Linked DNA regions of Homo sapiens. The protein of the gene in region 1 purifies or fractionates together with the protein of each later gene. This does not show direct contact. Each region holds a gene or a part of one and is shown in the gene's direction. Other genes may lie near its edges. The genes, in order: GBP7 and GOLGA4.

The links.
Region 2: the proteins of GBP7 (region 1) and GOLGA4 purify together in Homo sapiens (affinity purification with mass spectrometry; one large-scale study listed by BioGRID and IntAct). This does not show direct contact.

What each region holds. Positions count from the first base shown.
Region 1 is NC_000001.11:89,130,931-89,134,633, reverse strand, and holds the end of GBP7 (guanylate-binding protein 7), read left to right. Parts: intron 1-1,182; coding exon 1,183-1,376; intron 1,377-2,230; coding exon 2,231-2,485; 3' UTR 2,486-2,892; downstream 2,893-3,703.
Region 2 is NC_000003.12:37,323,207-37,327,028, forward strand, and holds part of GOLGA4 (golgin subfamily A member 4), read left to right. Parts: intron 1-381; coding exon 382-3,822. UniProt on the Homo sapiens protein: Involved in vesicular trafficking at the Golgi apparatus level. May play a role in delivery of transport vesicles containing GPI-linked proteins from the trans-Golgi network through its interaction with MACF1. Involved in endosome-to-Golgi trafficking.

The sequences.
Region 1 (3,703 bases):
TCATCTGACTGGGTTTTTTTTTTTTTTTTCTGGATGATTTCAAGGGGCCAAGGCTCAGATCAGCACTCCTGAGCTGGGGGCTTGAACCTTAGTAGGCTGGGACCAGGCCCATGGCTTTGTTCTCTGGCCCCTCTAGGTTAAGCACCTGCTGTGCTGCAGGGGCCAACTTGCTACTGGTTAACTGGCAACAACACACCGATGAGGAGTGCTGGCAAAAGTACTTTCTCAGAGCAGTGGCAGTGGGGTCCAAGGTCATTGGTGAGCAGCAGCAGCAGGGCAGTAGTGCTGCAGGTTCTGTGCATGTGCATTGGTGGTGGCAGGTTGACAGGGTCTGCACAGGTATGTGTACCAGCAAAGCGGTGGTGAGAGGCTGCAAGCGAGTGTGTGCCAGCAAAACAGTGGGGAGAGGGTGCATTGAGTGCACACTGGTGTGAGCCCATCTGCTGAAGCTCTATGATGGTTAGGTAGGGTATGTCAGCAAAGAAGATATGGTGATGGCTGCTGGGAAGTGCTTCAGTTAGGCATCTGACATTGCACTTTAAGTGGATGCAGCCAGGCAGGGACCATGAGAGAGGCTAGCAGACTGGGAGGTGCTCAGACCATACTGGATCTGTCCCACAGGCAAGATAGCCCAGTTCTATCCAGGACCAATAGTCGACAAAAGCCAAGGCCATGTATCTGGGCATGGCAAGCCTTGGGGGATGGGAGTTCCTGGTTGTGCTCCACTGCAGCCATTCCTGTGCCAAATATCTAGGCTCCACACTGGCCAGAGTCCTGTCCCTACCAAGTCTCCAAGCAGCTCTCTTTGCCAGCTCAAACATCTATGGGAGTTGTGGGGTCTCCTAAAGCTAGGATTTCAGAGGTCCATGGCAAGAGTGGGCCACTTCGCACCAATTTACCTCACCCCTTCCCCAGGAGCTGCTCAGGATTAGGAATGAGTCTTGGTGCTTGGCAACCTGTGCAAGGTTCCCAGCTTCCTCTCCCTTCAGCCTTGGGTCTGCATCCTTCCTTCATCAACTCTCAATGCCTTCCTTCTGAAGTCCTGCTTGGAGTTTATCAGTCTTCTTTACGGTCTGGTCTCTCAGTGGGAGAAGCTCTTCCTGACTCCATCTACTTAGCCATGATGGTTCTTCTCCCACCTGACTGTTATTTTCTTCCCTCTGTAAAACCTCGGTGGAACAGCTAAGCAGGCTAAGAAGGAGGCAGCTGAAAAGGAACAGGAGCTGCTAAGACAAAAACAGAAGGAACAGCAGCAAATGATGGAGGCTCAAGAGAGAAGTTTCCAGGAAAACATAGCTCAACTCAAGAAGAAGATGGAGAGGGAAAGGGAAAACTATATGAGAGAACTGAGAAAGATGTTGAGTCACAAGATGAAGGTGAGTCTGGATGAAGCTTGGCAGTGCTTGAGGCACAATGCCAGTTCCTCATTTAGGGAAGAGCCAAAATTTTAAGCTCAGTCAAGATTTCAGAAGGAAACACAAAAGATATATTTCACTTAAATTTCAAATACATATGAATTCTACTGAAGCCTGTAAGTTTACAAGACTTCAGCACTTTCTGTCATGTTAGACTTTGGAGAGTACACATGACATCCCCCAGGGTGCTGGGCTGCTGTTTGTGGTGATTATAGGATGGTCTCACTGTGCCCCAATTAATTAGGACCTTAGTCCACCAGCCCTTAGGATTCTTGGCACAACCATCAAAAGGACCCAAAATACATCCATCTGGATGAAAGTATCAGATTTGGCTTGATATGAAATGATACTGAATGATCTCAAATTGCTCCATTTGTTTCTGTATCTGCCTGACTCATCCTATACAACTAGAGTAAAACATATTCCTTGTCCCAAACTGGAGCTTGACAACCAGTGTTTTATACAGGGTCAGCAGTCCCCATTATTTGCTAGATGAGCATGGCCTTGCTATATCGGTGGAAAGGGGAATCAATTAGAATTAAATCTGCATTCCCTCTCAAAGGGCATTCATTGTGCTGGAACAAAATTCCTCCCCACCTCCAGTGAGATGGTGCTGAGGAAATGTCACAAAGGTGTATATCATGGATACTCCCCTTATTTAGGTCCAGTCATCTGGAAATGTCAGACCAACTCATCAAAGATTTTCTAAGATGTTAGAGAAATGGACACATGTTTAACTAATGAAATTGTTAAATACAAACCTCGGTCTCTTAAAAATTGGGGATTTTCAAAAGTAGGCTCTTTTACTTTTATAGGTCCTAGAAGAACTGCTTACTGAAGGATTTAAAGAGATATTTGAGTCGTTAAATGAAGAGATTAATCGACTGAAAGAACAAATTGAAGCAGCTGAAAATGAAGAGCCCTCAGTGTTTTCACAGATTCTTGATGTGGCTGGCAGTATATTTATTGCAGCACTACCTGGGGCTGCTAAGCTAGTTGATTTAGGAATGAAAATTCTTAGCTCATTATGTAATAGGCTGAGAAATCCTGGTAAGAAAATTATAAGCTGAGGTTTCTTTTGTTAAAATGGTATAACGCTGTTGCTCATTTTAAAAGTATATGTGTTATTGCAGTTTCATTTAAGAAAAGTTTAAAATTAAAAAGCAAATTTCAAAGAATATTATGGCCTGAAGTTCATAAAAACAAACTTAATTTTGACTAAAGTAATAATTAATAGAAATGGGGAACAAGTTAGAAGATAAAATTATTCCTAGAAAAGATTTAAGTAAAGCAAAAGGACAAATGGTAATATAAAGAAATTATTTTCAATTAATGTTATAGTCACAGAGATAATTTAAGTTATAATTAGCTCTTGCAAATCAGTGAGAAGAGAGTAACGCCACATATTTTAAACAGGCAAAAATATGATAATAAAAATGTTTAATTTTACTGACAATAAAAGTTGTGCAAAGAAAAACTATGAGGTTCTTGCTTCAATTTATCATGGGCTTGAAAGAACAGTTTGACAGGGCACTGAGCTGGCAAGGGTTTGAGGATATTGTCAGTGTCTCATATTTGCTAGTGAGAGTGTGAACTGTTGGAATCATATATGAAATATTTAAGTGCACATACCTTTGATCTAGCATTTCCACATTTAGAAATCTATCATATAGATTGATTTACTCAAATTGAAAATGGTATATATAAAATAGTACTTATGTTGCAGCATTGTTGTAATGCCAAAAGACTGAAAAAAACATTAAAGCCCCTCTTTCAGGTACTGATAAGGGAAATCTTGGGAAACACTCATAAAGGAATACTCTACAGCCACTAAAATGAAGGGAGAAGCTCTATTTGAACTAACAATGACAAGTCTCCAAGATGTATCATAAGTAAAAAAAAAAAATGATGCACGAAGCATGTATAATTACTACCACTGAATTTAGAAAATAATAAATGTATGCATATATTATTATCTCCTTCTGGAAAAATAGAAAATTATCTAGTATACATGGTCACAGCAGGAATGAACCTGAATAGTTGAGGTGAGAAATTAGAAAATAACTCATTTCACATCATATATTCTTCTGTGCCTTTTTTTAATAAAAATTGATTACATTAATGTTATATTTATTATCTTTGTTGAGTGCTTTAGGTTAACAAATACAGATTTCCTTTAGTTCTTACTATAACCTTGAAAGGCAAATGTTATTATCTATGGATAATAAAAGGAAGATAGTGAGATTAATCTATTTGCCCAAGATCATCCGTTAGGTTGCCAAGTTATG
Region 2 (3,822 bases), on another chromosome or scaffold:
GCCTCTGCCTCCTGGGTTCAAGGGATTCCCCAACCTCAGCCTCCCGAGTAGCTGGGACTACAGCCGCATGCTACCATGCCCGGCTAATTTTTGTATGTTTTGGTAGAGACAGGGCTTTGCCATGTTGGTCAGGCTGGGTCTCAAACTCCCGGCTTCAAGTGATCTGCTCACCTCGGCCTCCCAAACTGTTGGACTGTGCCTTGCCATAATCTTTTCTTTGTTATATGATTCCTTTAGTAATTGAGCATAGATTCTTTGTCTTTTCTAGTGTTTGGTATGATAATTTTGATCTTCAGGTAGGTGGTAGACATCATGTCTGTGTATCATTGTTAGTAGACAAGTACGTACTTTAATAAAAATGCATCTGTTTTTAATTAACAGAGAATTCTTGAATTGGAAAGTTCTTTGGAAAAAAGCTTACAAGAAAACAAAAATCAGTCAAAAGATTTGGCTGTTCATCTGGAAGCTGAAAAAAATAAGCACAATAAGGAGATTACAGTCATGGTTGAAAAACACAAGACAGAATTGGAAAGCCTTAAGCATCAGCAGGATGCCCTTTGGACTGAAAAACTCCAAGTCTTAAAGCAACAATATCAGACTGAAATGGAAAAACTTAGGGAAAAGTGTGAACAAGAAAAAGAAACATTGTTGAAAGACAAAGAGATTATCTTCCAGGCCCACATAGAAGAAATGAATGAAAAGACTTTAGAAAAGCTTGATGTGAAGCAAACAGAACTAGAATCATTATCTTCTGAACTGTCAGAAGTATTAAAAGCCCGTCACAAACTAGAAGAGGAACTTTCTGTTCTGAAAGATCAAACAGATAAAATGAAGCAGGAATTAGAGGCCAAGATGGATGAACAGAAAAATCATCACCAGCAGCAAGTTGACAGTATCATTAAAGAACACGAGGTATCTATCCAGAGGACTGAGAAGGCATTAAAAGATCAAATTAATCAACTTGAGCTTCTCTTGAAGGAAAGGGACAAGCATTTGAAAGAGCATCAGGCTCATGTAGAAAATTTAGAGGCAGATATTAAAAGGTCTGAAGGGGAACTCCAGCAGGCATCTGCTAAGCTGGACGTTTTTCAGTCTTACCAGAGTGCCACACATGAGCAGACAAAAGCATATGAGGAACAGTTGGCCCAATTGCAGCAGAAGTTGTTGGATTTGGAAACAGAAAGAATTCTTCTTACCAAACAGGTTGCTGAAGTTGAAGCACAAAAGAAAGATGTTTGTACTGAGTTAGATGCTCACAAAATCCAGGTGCAGGACTTAATGCAGCAACTTGAAAAACAAAATAGTGAAATGGAGCAAAAAGTAAAATCTTTAACCCAAGTCTATGAGTCCAAACTTGAAGATGGTAACAAAGAACAGGAACAGACAAAGCAAATCTTGGTGGAAAAGGAAAATATGATTTTACAAATGAGAGAAGGACAGAAGAAAGAAATTGAGATACTCACACAGAAATTGTCAGCCAAGGAGGACAGTATTCATATTTTGAATGAGGAATATGAAACCAAATTTAAAAACCAAGAAAAAAAGATGGAAAAAGTTAAGCAGAAAGCAAAGGAGATGCAAGAAACGTTAAAGAAAAAATTACTGGATCAGGAAGCCAAACTTAAGAAAGAGCTTGAAAATACTGCTCTAGAGCTTAGTCAGAAAGAAAAACAGTTTAATGCCAAAATGCTGGAAATGGCACAGGCTAACTCAGCTGGAATCAGTGATGCAGTGTCAAGACTGGAAACAAACCAAAAAGAACAAATAGAAAGTCTTACTGAGGTTCATCGACGAGAACTCAATGATGTCATATCAATCTGGGAAAAGAAACTTAATCAGCAAGCTGAAGAACTTCAGGAAATACATGAAATCCAATTACAGGAAAAAGAACAAGAGGTAGCAGAACTGAAACAAAAGATCCTCCTATTTGGGTGTGAAAAAGAAGAGATGAACAAGGAAATAACATGGCTGAAGGAAGAAGGTGTTAAGCAGGATACAACATTAAATGAATTACAGGAACAGTTAAAGCAGAAGTCTGCCCATGTGAATTCTCTTGCACAAGATGAAACTAAACTGAAAGCTCATCTTGAAAAGCTAGAGGTTGACTTGAATAAGTCTCTGAAGGAAAATACTTTTCTTCAAGAGCAGCTAGTTGAACTGAAGATGCTGGCAGAAGAAGATAAGCGGAAGGTTTCTGAGTTGACTAGCAAGTTGAAAACCACAGATGAAGAATTCCAGAGTTTGAAATCTTCACATGAAAAAAGTAACAAAAGCCTAGAGGACAAGAGCTTGGAATTTAAAAAACTGTCTGAGGAACTAGCGATTCAGCTAGATATTTGCTGTAAGAAAACCGAAGCCTTATTAGAAGCTAAAACAAATGAGCTAATCAACATTAGTAGTAGTAAAACTAATGCCATTCTTTCTAGGATTTCTCATTGTCAGCACCGTACAACTAAAGTTAAGGAGGCACTGTTAATTAAAACTTGCACAGTTTCTGAATTAGAAGCACAACTTAGACAGTTGACAGAGGAGCAAAATACACTAAATATTTCTTTTCAACAGGCTACTCATCAGTTAGAAGAAAAAGAAAATCAAATTAAGAGCATGAAGGCTGATATTGAAAGTCTTGTAACAGAAAAAGAAGCCTTACAGAAGGAAGGAGGCAATCAGCAACAGGCTGCTTCTGAAAAGGAGTCTTGTATAACACAGTTGAAGAAAGAGTTATCTGAAAACATCAATGCTGTCACATTGATGAAAGAAGAGCTTAAAGAAAAAAAAGTTGAGATTAGCAGTCTTAGTAAACAACTAACTGATTTGAATGTTCAGCTTCAAAATAGCATCAGCCTATCCGAAAAAGAAGCAGCCATTTCATCACTAAGAAAGCAGTATGATGAAGAAAAATGTGAATTGCTGGATCAGGTGCAAGATTTATCTTTTAAAGTTGACACTCTGAGTAAAGAGAAAATTTCTGCTCTTGAGCAGGTAGATGACTGGTCCAATAAATTCTCAGAATGGAAGAAGAAAGCACAGTCAAGATTTACACAGCATCAAAACACTGTTAAAGAATTGCAGATCCAGCTTGAGTTAAAATCAAAGGAAGCTTATGAAAAGGATGAGCAGATAAATTTATTGAAGGAAGAGCTTGATCAGCAAAATAAAAGATTTGATTGTTTAAAGGGTGAAATGGAAGACGACAAGAGCAAGATGGAGAAAAAGGAGTCTAATTTAGAAACAGAGTTAAAGTCTCAAACAGCAAGAATTATGGAATTAGAGGACCATATTACCCAGAAAACTATTGAAATAGAGTCCTTAAATGAAGTTCTTAAAAATTACAATCAACAAAAGGATATTGAACACAAAGAATTGGTTCAGAAACTTCAACATTTTCAAGAGTTAGGAGAAGAAAAGGACAACAGGGTTAAAGAAGCTGAAGAAAAAATCTTAACACTTGAAAACCAAGTTTATTCCATGAAAGCTGAACTTGAAACTAAGAAGAAAGAATTAGAACATGTGAATTTAAGTGTGAAAAGCAAAGAGGAGGAGTTAAAGGCATTGGAAGATAGGCTTGAGTCAGAAAGTGCTGCAAAATTAGCAGAGTTGAAGAGAAAAGCTGAACAAAAAATTGCTGCCATTAAGAAGCAGTTGTTATCTCAAATGGAAGAGAAAGAAGAACAGTATAAAAAAGGTACAGAAAGCCATTTGAGTGAGCTAAATACAAAATTGCAGGAAAGAGAAAGGGAAGTTCACATCTTGGAAGAAAAACTTAAGTCAGTGGAAAGTTCACAGTCAGAAACATTAATTGTACCCAGATCAGCAAAAAAT